Linked DNA regions of Homo sapiens: region 1 is linked to region 2. The links come from fine-mapping of genetic effects on gene expression. A gene starts in region 2. The other region holds a variant in brackets. All regions are shown on one strand. Distances are from middle to middle.

Region 1 (10,881 bases), 29 kb after region 2:
ATATTTTGTTTAAATTTTATTTTTTCAATTATTTTAAATTGAGGTCTGGTCTTATTAAAAAGGGATCTTTCAAAACTTATGTTTAATAGTTTTACCATGTATAATAGCATAGCATTTGTGTTGGTAAGTTGGCCTTTATTTTTGAATTCTGCAAGTAAAAAGTTAAACTTTCTTTTAGTTTTATCACATGTTTGGGTGTCAGGTTCAATTCTAGATACTAAGAATCTGAATGAACTAGATGCTTTTCCTGCCTGTAAGAAGTCTAATAGGATAGAGACTACATAAACAGAATTTAAATATTGTACAGTAATTAGTACTGAGGAAAGTGTGTGTGTGTGTGTTTAGTATATAGTGTGTATTTGGCTGAATAGAAGGCAAATACCAGAACTTTCCAGTCAACAAAACTATTGGAATGTTATGTATTGGCCAGGTGAGATACTCTGTAAAATAACTGCATGTGTCAGAATCCTTTCCCCAGCTTTTTTTGGAATAGGGTGATTAATGACTTAAACCTTAAAGTTTGAGTGCCATATTGTAACATACCATTAAATCCTTGTCACTTCCTGTGGATCATGAAATCTGATGTCTCTTGATTGATGTTCTCTCCTTGTCAGTCCCAGCCTCTCCATGGTCTGTTCAAAATTTTGTATGACACGGTCTTCACCAAAAATTTGTTATTAGTTACTGAAGTTGTAACGGTTAAGTTTGCCATTGAGATCTATTGAGTGTCATTTACTACACTTCACAGCTGTGGTCTTAATGGCTAGTGAAAGCAGAGCGCGTTGTGAGTCGGCAGTTTCTGATGCTTTTGTGAAATTCTTCTAAAGTGAGTTAACCTGTATTTCAGATTGCTTCCAAGTATGATCATCAGGCAGAAGAAGATCTTCGCAATTGGATAGAAGAGGTGACAGGCATGAGCATTGGCCCCAACTTCCAGCTGGGCTTAAAGGATGGCATCATCCTCTGCGAGTGAGTTACAGCCCTCCAGAATCTGTTTCTGCTCTTCCAGTTCTTTCCACAGCCTTCTCTCTCACTCTCCTTCTCAGCCCAGGGTGTCAGACCTTGATATTCTACAGATATCTTTAATGCTTTCCCTTACTGATGCTAAAGGGAGCAACTTGATATTTCAATCCTTGTTTTTGTGTGCCAGTAAATAAGATGTCTCTCATATTTTTCTTTTCAGACTTATAAACAAGCTACAGCCAGGCTCAGTGAAGAAGGTCAACGAGTCCTCACTGAACTGGCCTCAGGTAACAGCCAAACCAACCACCTCTGGTTCTAGTTGGTTGCATTTTATGTAGTGAAAACTTGATTTCAGGTTTGGTTTTTTGGTTTTGTGTTTTTTTTTTTTTTAACTTTTTGATTACGGTTTTTACATAGACATTGTAGCAGAAATTTGTGCATATTTAATTTTTTGCCCTTTTGTAATGGTTCTGTAATTACTTATTTAACTAGTTCTGTAATTATTACGTTTAGCTTAGAAGTTTTCCTATATTTAGTCTGTGTACATTCAGAAAGGACTTGACACAGCTTACACAGAGAAATGCAACCCAGACCTTAAGGATAAGGGAAAAAACAAGGCATTCCACATAACTAACAGTGGACTGCAGAGCACTGTATCAGACATAACCTTAGTTCATGAGTGTGTATGAGGAAGGAAAATGGGATACTTACTGGTCTTGAACATGTGTTTGGAGATATGAGAGAATGAGTATTTAGTAACCACAAATGTATTCTGAAATTAAAATAACACATAATGAATTATTTATTAGTATGAGTAATTATACACCTTTTGACAAATAAAATTCCAGGCCTGGATAGCTCTGATACAGAATCCTTTTAAAATATATAAGGAAGATCTTGCCCATAAAAACTGAAAACACGTAACTGCTTAAAAATATTAAGACTGTGATGTGACCCACAGTGAGAGACACACTCTCTTCTTGCTCTTTCCTGTTCCAGAGAGAGCCATGCTTAGTATGTATTTGGTTGAATCCTTGTCAAACAGCTTTCTGGGCAGCGTCTTATAACTGTTTATGAAGACTTGGAATTCTTAGAAATTATGAATGTCAATATTTAGCTCCAGAAATTATAAAACTCTTCTTCTTTATAGTTGGAGAATATTGGCAACTTTATTAAAGCTATTCAGGCTTATGGTATGAAGCCACATGACATATTCGAAGCAAATGATCTTTTTGAGAATGGAAACATGACCCAGGTTCAGACTACTCTGGTGGCTCTAGCAGGTCTGGTACGTACATGTCTTTAATGGCTGGTTAACAGATTCCCACCACATTGGTGATGAATTGCATCATTGCTTTTTCATGGGGGTTCAGACCAGGTGGGGCGGGGCCTGTCTCTTCTGTAATTAGTAGCTTTGTGGAAAGGCTGCTGACATCAGCTGCATCGTACTAGATAGCTTACTTAGAACACTCACATTTCAAATGATGCAGTATATTATTGAACAGCCTTAAATACTTTTTATCTCTAGTTTGGGCCCCTTTGTCTATGGACATATCATTTCTTTGTTGTTCCTTCTGTGAAACTCTGTTGGCCTTTTCAGTTAGTGTGCATGTTTCTGTCTAGGCTAAAACAAAAGGATTCCATACAACCATTGACATTGGAGTTAAGTATGCAGAAAAACAAACAAGACGTTTTGATGAAGGAAAATTAAAAGCTGGCCAAAGTGTAATTGGTCTGCAGGTAAGTAATGTGGTGTTGCTTATTCAATTACTTATTCAATATGATTAATTCTCACCATGCAAAATATTAAGCCTCTCCTAAGAATAGACAGAAGTACTATAGTACTGGGGGGGGGGTGTAGTTTATACAATTTATATCTATTTATAAAGCCCATAAGACAGTGATAATTTTTTAGAGGAAACCTCAGGTATGCCACCTGACTTGACAATTATTTCTCCAGGAAACGAAAATTTTTAATTGAATCATATTGTCTTTTTTTTTTTTTTAAAAAAGAAAAATACACTTTTAAATTTTTTATTTTATCTTTTTTTTTTTGAGACAGAGTCTCACTCTTTTGCCCAGGCTGGAGTGCAGTGACGCGATCTCGGCTCACTGTAACCTCCACCTCCTGGGTTCAAGCAATTCTCCTGCCTCAGCCTGCCAAGTAGCTGGGATTATGGGAATGAGCCACCATGCCCGGCTAAGTTTTGTAGTTTTAGTAGAGATAGGATTTCACCATGTTGGCCAGGCTGGTCTTGAACTCCTGACCTCAGGTGATCTGCCCACCTCGGCCTCCCAAAGTGCTTGGATTACAGGCGTGAACTACTGCACCTGGCCTGTTTTATCTTTTATATATAGATGGGATCTCACTTTGTTGCCCAGGATAGTCTCAAACTCTGGAGCTCAAGCAGTCCTCCTGCCTTGGCCTCCCGAAGTGCTGAGATTACAGGCATGAGCTACCACACCCAGCCAGAAATGTACTTTATAAATTCCTTAATGTTATTGACCAAATTAGGCAATTTTACACGACCTTAATGCCAAAGTCACTTATTTACAGTACCAAATCATGATATAGCAGCCAAGCCCTGTTAGAATTTGTCAGTTTAAATTCTTCTGAAATACGTAGTTCAGATGTTTTCCTTCTCTTCATTGTTCTCTTCACTGGTCATGGAAACGTCATTGCTAATTCCCCAAATGCTGTTGGCTTTACTCTCCAAAAGCCACTGTACCTGCTTGATACAGTGCCCCTTTCTACTGAGTCTATGCAAGTTAGATTTATTTTTACACAGTACAAAATTGTATTGGTGGTGAGAAACTGGAAACCTAAATTTCAGAACAGTAGTCAGTTGGTTGAATTACAACTCCATAAAAGCAAAGTGTAATGTAAAATTATACACTAGAGTTTGAAAAGATAGGTTATGGGGGAAAAAAATCAGATCATCAAATACTGTGGTCAGTATGGATTTTTAAAATTAAAAATGCACATGTTTTTGTATGTATTTGTATATATGTGCATCTATAGATATATACATAGACACATAGGTTAAAAAGCTAAAAGGATATTCACAAATGTTGACAGTGAATGGATGGTGGTATCACAATGATTTTTCCCCCCTCCTTTTTGCTTATATGTGTTTTCTGAATTTTCTTCAATGAACAGATTTTATATTAGTAATAAAGATTTTCTTTAATCTTATTTTTAAAGAAAAAAGATCCAACATCAGAAAAGTGTGCCTAACCAGTGGAACAGGGTGTAATGGTTGGTCCTGAAGCCATACTGTTCTCAGTGGGGAAGAAAAATTAATTATTGTTTCCCTGAACTTTGCTGAGTTCAAATTCCTCATTCCACCTTTCTCCAGCTCTGTCCAAGGACATGGGAGTTACAGGAATAAAATGTGGTTCCTTTCTGGAGAAAATGTTGGTGATTTTGAAACTTTAAAAAGCCCTTGTTAAGCTCCCAGAGAAAACACTTGGCATTTGCTTTCACATTTTATGTAAAACATTCCTGGAGTAGAACAGCATATTGCTTGGCCTAGGATTACTTCTG[T/C]TGAAATAACCGAAGCTGGTACCTCTTAATTTGGTTATCTGGGGAAAGAGTAGCAGAGGAAATTATTCTGCCACTGTAATGACTTTTGGTGTGTCAGTCCACCTGTTAAAGTGTGTTTAATTCTTCTATGTATGAGTTTTTATCTATAGTGACTTTAAAATTTTCTTTTTAAAGTTAGCACTTGAAATTTGTTTGTAGACACATAGAAGAGTTGACTGGAGCCTCAGCTCAGTAACTTGTCGGTTGTGCCCCTTCTGTCTTTTTGGTAGCATGGAAAGTTTTGTTTGTGTTGTGTATATTGTTGACATCTGATAATTTGTGCAATTTTATTTTTAACTTAAAAGATGGGAACCAACAAATGTGCCAGCCAGGCAGGTATGACAGCTTACGGGACTAGGAGGCATCTTTATGATCCCAAAATGCAAACTGACAAACCTTTTGACCAGACCACAATTAGTCTGCAGATGGGCACTAATAAAGGAGCCAGCCAGGTAAGCAATACCTTTTTATACGTGTACAAGAGTACACTTACCTTATTTTTATTAACCAGAAGTTTAAAGTAGGTATTTTTTGTATAGTTTATTTAGAGTATATTCCTTCAGGAATGTGGACTTTGCTGGGAAAGCAAAATAATCAAAAGACCTTTTCGATAGCAGCAAAAGCATGATGTGTCTCGTGGTTTTTGTTGGCAGTTAGAACAGCTGGCCTTTCTACCTAGCCAGCAGAAAAAAAGATATGTTTATTACAGTGTTCTTGCTCCAAAATCCAAGTAAAATATTGCTCATTTAAATGCTGACTTTTTTTTTTAAGGAGCCCTTAATTAATAGGTAAAATTACCTGGTGTTCCACTAAGAAGGATTTAACTAGCATTCCTATTAGATGTGTCAATATAAGGAGATGGAAATGCAACATGGTGAAAATACCAGTATACCACATCCAAGATAGAAATATTTCCTTGTTAAAAATAGATCACCAGCACCTCAGAAGGAAGTTCAACAACCATTTGAGAACAGACAGGTCTCACATCCAACAACAGCTGGGATAGGGTTTGAAAAACATTTTCTTACCGAGTCCAAGGGAGATTTATCAAACTTTGCCCTTATGGAACACATCCTACCGGGTGCGGCATTATGTCTCTCATAGCTGCCACTCACGTTTACTTTTCTACCCACTCTGAACCTGGAAGTGTGTGCTTGATGTAAGTAGAGAGATGAAGTATGAGTTACTGTACTCTGAAAAAGAGGGGAGTGGCTGTGAAGTGGCTGGTTCTTCTGTATCTCAGCCTTTTGAAAAGACTCAAGTCCTTAAGATCTGCTCAACATAGTTTCTGTTGAATATATTATAAATTTTTGAAATTGGTAACCCAGATAATGTATGTGGTCCCCATGGGCATTCACATGGAACTTTCTGGTGTGGAAGCATTATGATTTCACATTCTTTATGTCTCATTCTCTCTTAAATCCAGAGTAGGTAGTAATGTCTCCATTTTGCAGTTTGAGAAACCTAAAGCTAAATTTACGTGTTTGAGGCCACATAGTAATTTTATAGCAGAGCAAGGATTTTGAAGAAAGGTCTCACCTAGCTCAAAAGCCAATGAATATTGCTTCATGGAAGTGATTCGGTATCAGGATATTTTGGTTAAGCTAGCTTTACCCCTGAACCAAATGAAAGTTCATGTATTACTGTTCATATTCAATGTGAATTCTATAATTTATAAATTATTCACAAGAATAGATTCTAGCTGCTGTTTTAACTTTTATACTATGTTCTAATACCAGGCAGGGATGTTAGCACCAGGTACCAGAAGAGACATCTATGATCAGAAGCTAACATTACAGCCGGTGGACAACTCGACAATTTCCCTACAGATGGGTACCAACAAAGTTGCTTCCCAGAAAGGAATGAGTGTGTATGGGCTTGGGCGGCAAGTATATGATCCCAAATACTGTGCTGCTCCTACAGAACCTGTCATTCACAACGGAAGCCAAGGAACAGGAACAAATGGTTCGGAAATCAGTGATAGTGATTATCAGGCAGAATACCCTGATGAGTATCATGGCGAGTACCAGGATGACTACCCCAGAGATTACCAATATAGCGACCAAGGCATTGATTATTAGATCCACACAGAAGGAGCTCAGTATTTAGTCCTTTGTTTTTATTCAGTGAGAACCAAGCTAGCCTTGAGTAATTTTTATCTTGTCTTCCTAAAACACTATTAAGCTTATTGTACTTTTAAGAAAAATTGCCTTACGTACATTCCTTTTTCCTTTTTCTGCCTCTTCCCTCAATAGTTGCCTTTTAGTGCTGTAATAGTTAAATCCTACAGCATAATCAATAACTCGCATATGAAGTAAAAAGGAATACTGTGAAAGGGGAGTACTCTTGTACAGCCAGTTCTTTTATGCAAAAATCTATGCATTTTTACAATCTTATATTAAACTGGTATTTTCAAACAATAGGAAACTTTTTTTTTTTTTTTTTTTTTTTACAGTTTAGTGTATCTGGTTTCTACATGGAAGACTAAACTCATGCTTATTGCTAAATGTGGTCTTTGCCAACTAAATTTAAGATGCAGCATTTTAGAAATTTACATATCAATGTTTCTACAGTATTGTTTGCTAATTTTTAAATAAAGTCATGATCAGTGTGCATTTGTGATTATATGTGTACTCATTCTCTTACCTAGCGAACAAGATCTTTTCAGAGTGGTGTTTCTAAAAGAGCATGTACAAAAGTGGCCTGTGGACATTTAGGCCTGGGTGATGCATTTGCTCTTCCTGTTTGTGCCAATGTATCAATGTAGAGTTGCTCTGTTTTCTTCAACTGTATTTATTGCTGCATTTCTCAGCATAAACTTATCCCATTGTATTTTTTATAAATAAATATTTTTTTTGAACTTTCATATGAACCACAGGCTGATTATTTTCTGGCTAGCTTCTAGATAGGTAGGGTCAGATTTTTTTTTAAGTACCTTTTTCCTAGGTACTGTTACAAGGTACATTAACATTTTATTTACTTCACACAACACTGCACTCTATGCTTAAGGAGATTGAGGCTTAGGAAACCATTACACATAGTAAATGACAGAATTCTAATCATTTTCTGACCCTTGCTTATTTCACTGACTTGGCTGGCCCAGATTCATCTTAAATTCAACTTGGAATAATCTTAAAATCTTTAGGAATATTGACAGGAGGGGTGGGGAATTTTCCTATCTTAGGGTAAGTAAACATGAATAAGAAACATGCTAGGTCAGCCATAGGATGTGCTGCTTGGTAATAAGCCAGGGTTTATAGTGAAACATAAACCTTCAGTCCTGACAGAGGGAAGGACAAACAATAGCTAGGTGTCATAGTGACAAAAATGCAGTCACTAAAAGAAAATTAGTAACTCACACTTTCCGACATTGTCTCAGCCAAGCCATGTCTTCTAATAGGATTGGCTCTATTAGGTTTGGGGGCGAAAACCGTCTGTTTTTTGCTGAGAGATGAGGAGTATATACACATGGTTTGATGAGCCCACAAAAGTGAAGGCTATTTGCTCATCATTCCACAATGACTAGGTTTAATGCTTCTGGGAAACTGCTTGTAAAGGAAACTATTGGAGTCAACCTAATTCAATGGTGGCATTTAAGAAAAAAGTCATTGCATTTAAAGTAGACCTGAGTTCTAAGGCTTTCCTTGTCATCTTTGACTCTTCAAAGTTTAGGGAAGGGAAGCCTTATATCACACTACCTGCCCTGCCATTTAAGTCAGATTGATTCCCATGAGGCTGCCAATCAACATGTTAAAATGTTTCTATTTGGTTAGAGTTTTAAAAACGAAAAGCTCTTCCCCTCACTCCCATCTACATAAATCTCTGAGGTCCAGGCAGAAGTATTTTTAAAAATCTGTCTCCAGGTAATTTCTCAGGTGGGGCTGTGGTTGAAAACCACTTCTTCCAGAATGTCTGCTGTAAGAGGAGTGCTTGTGTATCAGGAGTTTGGATAAATTGTGTGTGCCATCACGGAATGTGATCTGGTGGAGAGACATAACAGAAAGTGGATTCACAGTCATATCAGAGAAGAGCATGGAGGAAAAGGACAGAAGAGAGGGCAAGTAATGCTGCTCAGAGGCATTGCAGAAGCATGATGCTATCAGAGCTGGGTTTTGAAGAATAAGTAGGAGTTTGCCATTAGCAAAGAGGAGGAAGAGTATTCAGAAAAAAAGGAAGAGCATGTGCACAGACTAAATCATTGGTTACACTCCTGCCTCTCCTGTACATGCCCAGTTCAGGTGGTAGTTCATGTTAGAGTAGACAGTTTTGGCTTTTATTGTCACCAAATCTAAGAATTGTACTTTGAAAAGTTAATCCATTTAGCATATTTCCAGGATTGGCTGAGTAGGGAAGTATCCTACTCTGTATAAAAGCAACTTTCCAAGCTGGGCATGGTGGCATGCCTGTAGTCCCAGCTGCTTGGGAGGCTGAGGCAGGAGGATCACTTGAGCCTAAGAGCTGGAGGCCGCAGTGAGCTATGATGGCACCTGTGCATAGACACTGTACTCCAACCTTGGGAACATAGTGAGATGCTGTCCCTTTAAAAAAAAAAATCCAGAGATTTCTGCTAACAAAATCCTTATCTTAAAAAGGTTTATTTATTAGTTGTGCACTTACAAACTTACCTCAGTTCTTACATAGTGTACTTTGTAAGTTGATGCATATAAACATGGTTTTAGAAGAGTTTTTCTGTCCTAATTTGTACAAAAAAAGGTAAACTAATATAGTTCCAGTATTGTTACCTGGTCAAACAATAATGACAAAGACAATGAGGAAGAATAGGGTTTATTAGGTCTTTTAAAAAAAAATTCACTAACTTTTCTCTAGTGGTCTCATCTTCTATTCTGTAAATGGCTCTTAGAAGGAAATGTTTTCCAGGTACAGATACCTAAATGGGTATCTATCTCACAATGGCCTGGAGTTCTGTTCCCTCCTCATTCCTTAATGAGTGCTTGTCCTGCTGTGCCCTTGCATTGTTTAATTTGTTGCTCCTTTTTACGAAACTCTGAAAAACAAAAGAACAAGTTAGAATAGTATTATGTGTCTGTACTGTTGATAACGTAGGGGCCGAGGGAAAACTTCTCCTTTGCCCTCTGACGGTTTGCTGAAGAATTAACTTACAAAAGGCAGATTAACAGGAGAAATGGCATATAAAGTAGCACAGGGGAGAATCACAGTGAGTGTCTAAATGGGGTACAGATAATTCTGTTTTTGGGAAAGGGAGATGGGGAAGTGTGGATGATTTTATGGGGGTGGTGAATTACTTTTAGGGGAGTTTAATGAGCTTGAAGAACACTTAGTGGCTGGGAACAAAGTCTGTTGGGCCCACAGGACAGTGGTTTGTGACAAAAGTCTGTCCAGGTGTGTTGACTGAATTTAGTCTTTGTTTCTGCTATATAAGTCCAGTTAATGGAAAACTCAGGGAAGGGGCCAGAGGTGGTTTTTTTCTTTGGTGGGTCTGGACTTTAGGCAGATAAGGGGATTTCATTCAGATGACAGCTTCATCCTGTGCTTTGGGAGAAGGTCAGAGAGTTCTTGAGGCTTCTTCAGTTCAGCATGTCAAAGTGCCATATTATGGAGTATCAATTTCTGAGTCCCAATGATAGCCATTTACAAGTTCTTGGCCTTAAATTTCAGATAACTGGATCCTTAAGAAAGTTTCTTCTGTTGAAAAAACTATTTTAAGGGGTAAATTTCAAGGTGGATTTTTTTTGGGGGGGAGGTGGTGGAGACGGAGTCACCCTCTGTCGCCCAGGCTGGAGTGCAATGGCGCCATCTCAGCTCACTGCAACCTCCACCTCCCGGGTTCAAGCGATTCTCCTGTCTCAGCCTCCTAAGCAGCTGAGATTACAGGCGCCTGCCACTGTGCCTGGCTAATTTTTGTATTTTTAGTAGAGATAGGGTTTCACCATGTTGGCCAGGCTGGTCTCAAATTCCTGACCTCATGTGATCCACCTGCCTTGGCTTCCCAAAGTGCTGGGATTGCAGGTGTGAGCCATAGTGCCCGGATTTCAAGGTGGATTTTTAACTGGAAAAGTAAATCAGGGGATGGAGACCTGGCTAGCTACATACCACCATCATAAGCACTTTCCTTAGAGTACATACAAATAAGTCAATAAACAAGTAAAAAGTAAAAATTGTATTTTGGCTGAGTGCGGTGGCTCACAACTGTAATCCCAGCACTTGTGGGAGGCCGAGGCAGATGGATCACCTGAGGTCAGGAGTTCAAAACCAGCCTGACCAACATGGTGAAACCCCGTCTCTTCTAAAAATACAAAATTAGGCGTGGTGGTGCACGCCTGTAATCCCAGCTACTTGGGAGGCTGAGGCAG
Region 2 (10,881 bases):
TCTAGCCATGCCCAATGCTACATCTCCTTGACTTGTATGTCACATGAACCACTAAAGTCCACTTTTTGTCTAAGTCGGTTTGACTTCGTTTTCAGCTTCCATATCTGTTTATCATAAAGAACTCCGGTGGACCTTGTTTGGGTCATGTGCCTCCTTGAGCCCAGTACTTGGCCTAGTGGGGGATAAGGTAATCCCTTTGAAACGTCCGCCACATGCTTGCCTCTGGTGGAAAAGGTGGCACACGATGGATGTACTAATAGTATCACCTGGAGTAACTGGTGAGCACTCTCCAAAGGGAGGGGAAAAAGGAGCAAATGTACCTTACAAGAGCAATTTCAGGGAGCTTCCAGGTAGCTGAACCCATGAAGGTTCCTGAAGTGGGGCGTGACAGAGAGGCCGTGGCAGTTCTGCTCCCCTTCTCCCATACCTCATCCTATGCATCTCTTCTATTCGGCTGCTCACATGTGTTTTGGAAAAACTGATTTCAAATGAAGATGGGCAACAACAAAGGATCACTGCCAAATCCAATACAAAGTTGTTATTATAAAGAAAAAGATGTAAAGGATAGGAGCTTTTTTTTTTAAGACAGAGTCTCACTCTGCTGGAGTGCAGTCTCCCAGTCTGGAGTGCAGTGGTGCAATCTTGGCTCACTGCAATCTGCACCTCTGGGTTCAAGCAATTCTCTCGCCTCAGCCTCCTGAGTAGCTATGACTACAGGTGTGTGCCACCCTGCCGGCTAATTTTTGTATTTTTAGTAGAGACGGGGTTTCACCATGTTGCCCAGGCTGGTCTCGAAGTCCTGGCCTCATGTGATCCGCTTGCCTCCCAAAGAGCTGGGATTACAGGTGTGAGCCACTGCACCAGGCCAGGGGCATTTTTATAATAAATTCCATAAAGCATCCCCCCTTGCCCCCCTCAAAAAAGGGTGACTTCAGATTCTTCAGGAGTCTGGGAAGTTGGTTTTTGAGCAATCATTCTAAACCAGGCCTGGTTTCAAATCCCAACTCTGCTCTCTGTTAACTGTTTGATATTGACCGAGTTGTGTACCATACTAAACCTTAGTTTTTGATTATAAAGTAGGAATAGATAATATTGATTATTATAGGGTTATTGCAAGTGATGCCTATAAGTGGGGTGACTGTGATTTAGCATCTCAACGGGACACTTTTGAGGGTGAAATGAGCACACTATGAAGGGGCTTTATCAGGACTGCCTGAAACAAAAAAATATTAATAGTGCCCTTTCACTCTCAAAAATGCCCCTATTTGGGTGATGAATTTTGATCTCACTGCCTGTTATGTGCCTCTAATAGTGCTTAGCACATAGCAGGTGCTTAAAAGTCCCTTAGCCTCTGAGCCTTTTAGGGTCCCTTCTGCCTTTACCATAACTGATCCATACCTTTGTGGTTCTCTTTAATTCTCTGGCATTGTGGACTTGTTACAGGAACAGGGTCCCGATCCAACCCCAAGAGAGGGCTCTTGGATTTCACACAAGAAAGAATTCAGGGCGAGTCTGTAAAGTGAAAGCAAGTTTATTAGGAGGAATAAAAAAATGGCTACTCCAGACTGAGCAGCCCCTTGGGCTGCCGGTTGCCCTTATTTATAGTTATTTCTTGATGATACGCTAAACAAGGGGTGGCTTATTCATGCCTCCTTTTTTTAGATCATATAGGGCAACTTCCTGATGTTGCCATGGCATTTGCAAACTGTCATGGCGCTGGTGGGAGTGTAGCAGTGAGGACGACCAGAGGTCATTCTTGCCGCCATTTTGGTTTTGGTGGGTTTTGGCTGGCTTCTTTACTGAAACCTGTTTTATCAGCAAAGTCTTTATGACCTGTACCTTGTGCTGACCTCCTAACTCATTCTGTGACTTAGAATGCCTTAACCGTCTGGGAATGCAGCCTAGCAGGTCTCAGCCTTATTTTACCTAGCCCCTATTCAAGATGGAGTTGCTTTGGTTCACATGCCTCTGACAGATTTACAGGGTGAATTCTTCAAAACACTTTATGTTATTATTTTCGTGGCAAGATGTATGGCAATATGACCCACAAATTTGCCTCTGTGAAAAAATACTTTTCTACAACTCTCCAACAACTGCTTTTAATTAATAAAAATTTGGAAAGGTTGAGTTGACCTCCTTAACAGCATTTATTTCAATTGAAAGTGTTCTGCATATTACAGAAACTTCCAGGGAAAGTACTTAAGATTGCTGGGCCACACCCTGGTAGTTAGTTTGCAATGTGACATTTTACTTAAACTGAGCATTTACTGACACATTCTACTGTTAGAACTTGGTCAGGATTTTTGAAATGTATCCTAACAGTGACAAGTTAAATACCATAATAAGAAAACACACAATCCAATAAAAATAGGCAAAAGATCTGAACAAACATTTCATGAAAAAGATACACAGATGGCAAATAAATACATGAAAAGAAGCCCAACATCATTACGTATTAAGGGAATTCAAATTAAAACCATAATGAGATACCATACTCCACATCTATAAGAATGACTAAATTTAAAAAAACTGACCTACCAACTGTTGGTGAGGAAGCAGAGGAACTGGAACTCTCATACGCACTGGTGGGAATGTAAAATGGTACAATCATTTTGGAAAAAGTTTGCAGTTTCTTAAAAAGTGAAATATACATCTTTCACTTGATCCAGCCATTCCATTTATAGGTATTTATGGGAGAGAAATTAAAGCATATGTCCATACAAAGACTTGTACATGAATGTTCATAGCAGCTTTATTTGCAATAGCCAAAATCTAGAAACAACCAAAATGTTCATCAATAAGGGAATGGGTAAAATCACTGGTGTATCCCTACAGTTGAATACTACTCAGTAATAAAAGGAATGAACTAATGATACATGCTACAACGTCAGTGAATCTCGTAATAATTTTGCTGAGTGAAAGAAGCCAGATAAAACAGAATATACAATGTGTGATTCCAATTATATAAAATTCTAGGAAATACAAATTAATGTATAGTTACATAAAGCATATCAGGGGTTGCCTGGTGGGGTGGAGAGGTAAGGAAGACTGGGAGGGAGGGGCTACATGAGGAAACTTTTGGGTATGATGAATATGTCCTTTGTCTGTTGTGGTGATGGGTTTTTAAATAGGTGTATCTATGTGTATATGTGTGTATCAAACTGAACACTTTAAATATACTTTGTTATATCAATATACTTCAATAAAGCTGTTAAAATTGTCCCAAATTTTAAGTTTTTCTCATTTGATTCTATAGTGCCACAGTAGGTAGTCAGACACAAGCAGAGCAGGAGAGGGCTCCCCGCTCCCACCAGGAATGTCACGCAACCATCAGGTGGTCAGGCAGTTGTTAAACTGTCTCTCTAAAATAATAACTGGTCACAGCCGGCACCAGGGAAAGGCAGTCTCCCAATGGCTAGAAAATACCTACAACTGGTGATCAGCAGCTTCTGGATAGGATCTTAGGAGTTGGCTGAGTGGGCTCACAGGTGTGAACTAAGAGGCAAAATGGTGGCATTTAACTGGTACTCATATATGACCTTCTTCTAGGAACACTTGACTAGTAAGCGAAGAATGCCTCAAGTGAGCATGCGTACAACCTCAGTTAACACACTGAGCATGTGGTCCCTCCCAAGTGCTGGCAGGCCACTGCACATGCAGACAGCCCACCTCAAGGGAAGAATCAGGGGAAAAGGGACACAACCCCCTGGAAGCATGCCAATGTATAAAACCCCAAGTCAAAGGTCAAGCAGCGCACTTGAATCTCTCAAGTTGCCCGCCTGGCCCTCTTCCAAGTGTACATTACTTCGTTTCATTCTTGCTCTAACTTTCACTCCTGCTCTAAAACGTGCCTTGGCCTCTCCCTCTGCCTTATGCCTCTCGGTAGAATTCTTTCTTTGGAGGAGGCAAGAATTGAGGTTGCTGCAGACCCATACAGATTTGCTGCTGCTAACACACTTTGGTGCATGAGACTCAGATACATTCCCTAGTGCTAACAACAGCATTACGTATTCTTACACAATGAGTTAAATTAGAAACGAAGGAAGTCTCTGGAGTACTGATGGAATCCAAGAGGACCAACAATATTTAAATAGTAAGTTCCAGTGGCAATGTCAGAAAGAACTTCAAGTACCTTAGGGAGGATAACAGTTGATCAAACAAACAAATGTAGAAAATTTCATGTTTACTTTAAAGTCACGTAAGTGTACAATGGCATTAAGTACATTTACAATGTTGTGTGACCACTGTCACTACCCATCTTCAAAACTTTTTCATCATCCAAAACTGAAATCCTGCACTCCTTAAAAAATAACTCCCCCTAAACAATAAAATTCATGGTTTTCAAGACAAAATACAATTCTTGAACATTTTACAATAAGCTAAAGTAGATTAAAATGACTTTGAGCATACAACAGGAGCAGTCAGGCTTAGATTGCTGCAAAAAGGCTTTGCAGGCTGGACACCATGATTTGTACCTCAAATCTGGCTGCTATTTCCCACACTCCTAGGTCCCAAAGAAATGTGGGTGAGGTCCTGCGGTTGACACACCGTCACTGTCATACTACTGGAAAAACAGCCCAAACTGTTAGCCTCAATGATATTGGGTCAATTGTGTCATCTTCGTGTGGGAAGAATGCCCTAATTATCATTACTCCCTTTGGACAAAATTAGCAAGTCATTTATAAATCATTTCACTTTCCTCCCTATTTGCCTCCTCCCGCTTCCTTCAGGTTCCATCCCTCAAAGTCATTGGGAAAAGCCTTGCAAACTGGATAGCAGTTTTGTGCATTTCCGGTTCAAGCTGCCTTACTCACTTTTTTTTTTTAATTTAAAAAAACTTTGGATTTTTTGTAGAGACAGGATCTTGCTATGTTGCCCAGGATGTTCCTGAACTCCAGGCCTCAAGCAATCCTCCCACCTCGGTCTCCCAAAGTGCTAGGATTACAGGCATGAGCCACCACACCTGGTTCACCTTACTCACTTCTATTCCAGGACGGTTCAACTATGATGTTTTGGCTCCTCTTCTCAAGCAGCTTTCCACACCTGGTTCCATGATCTCTTCTGGCACAGTAGCTGGTATTTGGCAAACATAGGTTTCATCCTGGGATCTCAGGGATTGAAATCTGTCCTAGGTGTGCACCAGAAAGTGGTGGCAAGAGATGAAGCTTCGGAGGAGGCTGACCTCGGCCAGGATTCTTAAGTCTCAAAGTTTCAGCTTTCTCACCCCTCAACGGACATGAAATCTACCTATTTGTAACTCCAGGGAAGTAAATGAGATAATGTTTGGAAGATATCTAGTCTACCAGCTGCTCAGGCGGGGGGCGAAGGTTCTGTTCCCTGTCCCTTCTCTATCAAATGGCTTTAAAATCAGAAGAAAGTATTACGGGTAGGAAATGGGACTGCGAAAAAAATGGAGGCTGATTCTGGCCTAAAGGATACTTATCTCTATACAAAGGGCTTCTGATTCAAAGAGGCCCCGGGATTCAAAAACACAAGCAGAGCTACACCACGTGGGGTTTGGGACGAGCTGAATTCCGGATAAAGATGCCTGTAAAGAGGAGTTGATGCGAATCCAGAAAAGCACTTGAAATGCCCAGGCTTTGCATGGCACATTCCCCAGGATTTTTTCGCACCGCATTTAGAGGTTTAGACGGAGTGAGCTCGAATCAGGCCAAAAGCCTTAGGTTACTCCTGGGCGGCAGCGGGGCAGAGGTCAGATCAACAGGTGTGGAAGGCTGCGAGGTGAGGGAAGAAGCAGGTGTCGGTGGAGGCCCCAGTTCCTCCGGCCCAGAGGCTCCAACGCTGCTATTGGTGTTCCAGCAGCGGGCGGAGGGGTCCTGCCCGGCATCTGGGCGCGCTGGGCCCAGAGCCCGGGAGGAGGCAGACGGAGGCGGCGGGTCAGCGGCGGGCCAGCCCCGGTGGGCTTCCGCTCCCCTCCGCCGGCCCGGTCCGGCCCGCCGCGGAGGATGCCTGGAGGTTGACGTGAATGGCCTGTGGCTGGGAAGCCCCCAGGCGCCCTGCCTAGCCCGGGGGCGGGGCCGCCTAGCCGCCGGCCCCGGTGGCGTGAGGGCTGGGGCGGGGGCCGGGGACCTCGCGGGGAGGGAGCGGGAGGGAAAGCGGCCCCCGCGGCCCTTCAATTGGCCGCACCGCCCCTCGGCGCAGAGGCGGGAGGAGGCGGCCCTCCATTGGTCGGGCCCGGCGGCCAATCCTCGAAGGCCCAGGCGGAGGCGGGGGCGGCCTGTGGGGAACCGAGGTGCGGGCGGCGAGCGAGGCAGCCGGGTGCTTCGCAGCGGAGCTCGAGGCTCTGTAGCACCCAGTTGGACCCAGTCGCCCAGGCACCGCCCGCGCCCCGCGGCCGTCTCCTGCGCCTCCCAGAGGAGGGAGTTCGAGCATCCCCCGCGGCGGCCACTCCTCGGGGCCAGGAGCGGGGAAGCGAAGTGCGAGAGACCCCGGACCCCAGCGCTGTCTCTTCCCGCCGCCCGAACCACCATGACCCACTTCAACAAGGGCCCTTCCTATGGGCTCTCGGCCGAAGTCAAGAACAAGGTACGCCTGGCTCGGGCGGGCGCGGGGGCCCCCGGGGCACCCTTGGGCTGGCCTGGCGCTGGGCCGTGCTTCGTTTGCTCTTCGCGCTGTGGCTCACCGTTTTCCTGGAGAGGGGCCGTCGAGGCGGCGCGAGCGTCTCTGCCTGTCCCGGTCGCGTCCAGTCCCCGGGCTTGCGGGGCCGGCTCCCGGGCACCCGCCTGGCTTTGTTCCCGCGCCGTGGGACAGGACTAGTGGCTGGCGGTGGGTTCCCGGGCGCCTGGAGTCCCGCGGCGCCAGCCTTTCCGGCTGCGGGGGTCTCGGGGGCCGTTTGGTGACTGCAGAACGCGCCCTCCGGGAAGGGGGCGCTCCTGCGTGGCCACTCGCCCTTAGGCGGAGCCCGTCTGCGCGGCCAGGGACCCGGCGAGCCGCTGCCGCAGCCCCCGCCATCTGCCCGGGCCCCGGGTGCTGGCGGACTCCGCGCCTCCCCACGGGGAGAGAGACCGCCTAATGTCCCGCCGACCCCAGGGGCCCCGAGGAACGGAAGCCGGTCCGGGACCCATCACAGTCTCCGATCTCGGTGCCTGGGAGGCATTTGGAGGCAGATTGCTGCTGCTGCTTCTGCTGTTGCTTTTGCGGGAAATGGAGACAAAGCCTGAGCGCGCCACTGTGCGAGTGATATCTGCTTAGGCTTGAGACTTTTTATGAAACACTGAGAAGTTTGAAGTACATTAGACTTTCACGACATAAAGGATTATTTTTGTGGGTTGCTTTTGTTTGGGGCTTGTTTGCTGAGGCGGCTTATAGTTTGGAGCGATTGGGATTTGGTGACGCTCAGCTTTGCCACTGAGCCCAAGAATGCGTTAGGTTTATCTTTAGGACTTTTGGCCTGGGAAAGAGATGAGAGGCGTCCCCCTCCCCAAATCCTCTCCTTCCTTCCTCCCTCCCTGCATTCCAAGCCCATGACATCAGGGGTTTCTGGGGGGAGAGACCAGCCAATCGGCGCGGAACTGTGCACAGAACGCTCATTGTCTCCTTTCTGCTGTTCTGGCCAAAGCGCCACAAAGGAGGGCTGCCTGTGGTTTAATTCCCATTAACCTCCCGGGAGCCCAAGCATGTCAGGATTGCCACCGCACCGTCCGACCGCTGGTGGAAGGCACTGGCATTGTCAGAGCTGGAACATCCCGGGGCTGCGGGGGTAGGCGGTGTGAAGCGAATTATGTAAAGAGGTAATGAAGCGCACCGTTGTCAAACCCCAAGGGAGAGTTGTGGCTCTTGTCTCCCGCTGTTAGTCTGCACATCATACTGTCTTTGAAGCAAGGAGTTGATTTTAGTCTATGTATCTAAAGTTGAAATGTTTAGGTCCTTTACCTTTTCAAACGTGTTGCCCGTATTAGACAACAGTTTGCTAACAATTTTTTTAGAGAGCAGAAAGGTGAATGGTTTGTGTATGATTGAGTGCAAACCTCACCAACTGAAAAGTTTGTAACAAGTTACTGTTTCCTTCCTTCCAGGATTTACAAACCGAACTTTAGGAAACTTCAGAGGAATGGGCATGTCCAAAATGTTGGATGTGATGTGATACTTTGGCCTGGTTGTGCACATTCATTGTAATTCCCCCCAGTGATTCTTGGCTGGCAGCAGTTGAGTCTCTACTACCTTTTGCATTGTAAATGAGGTACTGATAACGTTGGCAGCCCTTCAAGTGACTTACTTTTCTTGGATGTTAATAATATCCATGCTAATTTCTTTTTTGCTGACTAATGTAGCAGCTTTTGCCCTTTTCCTGCTTAATACTGAGCAGATCCAAGGAAATGCATACACAGGCTAGATCACTGTAATTATTGTAAATATTTAAAAACGGTAAAACCTCAGTTTTTAGAACCTTTGGAAAGTTAGTTATGAAAGCTGTGGATTTATCCCTTTAAGCACCAAACCCATTTTTTAATAACCCGTTTCATTTTTGTAGTCCTTTCAGACAGTATTCTTTCATAGGAAGTCTTTTGATCTTAACAGCAGAGCAGTCCTGTAAGGTGAGGAGGATTGCTGGGATTATCCAACATCATTTACAGATCAGTACACTGAAGCTCAGAAAGATTTGCTCAAGGTCACAGAAGTTGGACTATTCTAAGAATTTTAACTCTAAAAGCGATGTCTTAGTTGAGTGAAGTACTTAGGGATGTTCTACACAAACTCTGCTGTCTGTCGCCTTCCCCCCATTTTTTTTTCTTTCTTTTTTGAGACGGAGTCTTGCTCTGTCGCCCAGGCTGGAGTGCAGTGGCGCGATCTCAGCTCACTGCAACCTTCGCCTCCCAGGTTCAAGTGATTCTCCTGCCTCAGCGCCCCGAGTAGCTGGGATTACAGGTGCCTGCCACCATGCCCGGCTAATGTTTGTATTATTTAGTAGAGACAGGGTTTTGCCATGTTGGCCAGGCTGGTCTCCAACTCCTGACCTCAGGTGATTCCCCCTGCCTTGGCCTTCCAAAATGCTGGGATTACAGGCGTGAGCCATGGCGCCCAGCCCTTCCTCCCATTTTTGCTACCCACCTGTCACTTCTTGACATTGTGATTATTTATGTCATACTGTTTCTGATCTGTTCTGGGCCTGGGAATCAAATAGCCATGTTTGCTAGGCCTTTGTATGAGATGCTGCATTTTGACTGAGGCCTCAGGACTCCCGGGTGAAAGGTGGGTATATACAAAAGTGACATTGCGTGGTTTGACACCTTTTGATTCCTTCCTGCTTTTTCTTTATTGCATAATTGATACATTGCTTGAATGCTAGATTCCCCCCATCTACCCCCACATCTCATTTAACAAAGAAGTATAGAAACATCCTGGGGAGACAGTGTGGAGTGGACCTGGGAGTCTAGCATATGTGAGTTCTAGTCCCCGTTCTGCCACTTCCTGCCTTCTGTGATGCTGGGCTAGCTACTTGACATCTCTCTCCTAGCTTCTGTTCTGTAGAATGGGGGAAAACAATAGTTGCCACCCCCAGACACCATGTTGTGGAGATGTGTCTGGCTTATACTCAACTCAGTGACTGTATTGTAGCTATTAGCTCTTAGTAACAGAAAATTAGTTTTTAGTATTATATTTCTAAGATTTGTATGTCCCTGCCTCTTTAAGTATTTGGTTTGTATTAATACCTTTTGGTCTTGTTATATAATATTCTAGCTGTAAAAGCATTTCATCAATGAATTGAGGAAGTCTCTGATTTTAAATACTTTAATCAGTAAAATTTCAGAGAAAAATCTTTAAGACATTTGATTGGTAAGATGATAATACATGGCAGAACACACAAGCTTACTTTTTTTAATAGGCAAGAAGATGTGTGAAAACAGCCTTAAAAAAAAAAAGCCTAAGAATTCCAGTCTTTCAGCCTGGAATATGAACAAAGTTTCTTTAATAACAAAGAAAAAAATGACACCAAATGATCAATAACTTAGAGTTTACAAAAACTATCAGAGAGTAAAAGGGCCAGGGAAAATGCAGACACTGGTAGGGATGGTTCGGTGGAGGATGGAAACACTCATAAAATAATGGGCCCTACAGGTATTCTACAGGTTGAACCAGGCCCTTGAATGCATCTTGGGAACCAAAATGAAAAGTGAAACAACTCTGTGCCTCGTAAACCATGAAAAAACATAACAGGTACTCAAGGGAAGCACAGTATTTCCTGGCAAAATGTTGGAGTTGGGGGTAGTTTCCCGTAAAGTTGGATGGGAAGAGAGGACGCAGTGAAGCATGTCTTCATCAGGTTTAGAGCAAATGCCGCAGGAACCTTTCTTACAGGTCTCAGGGAAAGTGGAAAAAATAAATTGACAAATGGGGAGCTGAAATAATCTTACCTCGGTATGTTTTTTTGGGAGGAAGCTAACTGGAATATTAAGAAGCATGGAATTGGAATGCACATTCTTCCAGTCTTCTGCCCCCTTGGAATGTCTGATTTGAGCAAAGCAGCTTCCCACGGGATCTTCTTGATTACAAAATGGTATTTCTCAACACCTAAAAACCTTCTTGAAAGGCTTATTACCAAAATCTTTGGTTGTTGAAGTTAAACAATCATACAGTAATAATTAGATAGGACCAGTGTCCGCGAAGTCCTCCTAGCTTGTTTGCCGGGTGCGCTTTAGACGCACAGCTGCTCTGAGGGTACTTCTGATCAGAGTAACCCAGGGTGACCCAGCTATAAATTACACTCGAGGGTGGTTTGCCTTGTCTTGCTGGTAGAGCACCAGAATCTTGGTAAAAATGTGTTGGTGGGCTTAGCTTTTTTCTTTTTAAACTTGGAAGTTCAGAAATTGGTTTTTAATTAAAATCTTTTTTTGTTTGCTTATTATCTGTCTCTTCCCACCA

Alleles and levels. Positions count from the first base shown, and alleles are read on the strand shown. Sizes are in standard deviations (SD) of each study's normalised expression.
In carriers of allele C in region 1, the expression in esophagus muscle of the gene that starts at base 6,274 in region 2 tends to be lower than with T alone (small effect, 0.22 SD a copy in GTEx).

What was found. PIP is the estimated chance that this variant, and not a neighbour inherited with it, causes the effect.
Region 1: its variant is fine-mapped to the expression of CNN3 in esophagus muscle (GTEx, PIP above 0.99). The same link has a PIP of 0.9 or more in gastroesophageal junction.

Annotation. Positions count from the first base shown.
Region 1 is chr1:94,893,491-94,904,371 of GRCh38, reverse strand. CNN3 (calponin 3) reads left to right here. Exons shown (of 7, transcript NM_001839.5): 2 at 848-969; 3 at 1,184-1,250; 4 at 2,114-2,251; 5 at 2,587-2,703; 6 at 4,855-5,001; 7 at 6,289-7,415. The coding sequence ends at 6,630. It overlaps SLC44A3 (solute carrier family 44 member 3), which reads right to left. Exons shown (of 15, transcript NM_001114106.3): 15 at 9,126-9,554. The coding sequence ends at 9,450. Among named protein-coding and RNA genes, the nearest start is that of CNN3-DT, 27 kb to the left of the region's middle. The variant T/C (reference allele first, on the strand shown) is at 4,511.
Region 2 is chr1:94,922,503-94,933,383 of GRCh38, reverse strand. It overlaps CNN3 (calponin 3), which reads left to right and starts at 6,274. Exons shown (of 7, transcript NM_001839.5): 1 at 6,274-6,546. The coding sequence starts at 6,490. CNN3-DT (CNN3 divergent transcript) reads right to left here and starts at 7,024. Exons shown (of 3, transcript NR_168377.1): 1 at 6,644-7,024; 2 at 1,399-1,512. RefSeq lists silencers at 5,757-6,636, 6,737-7,166.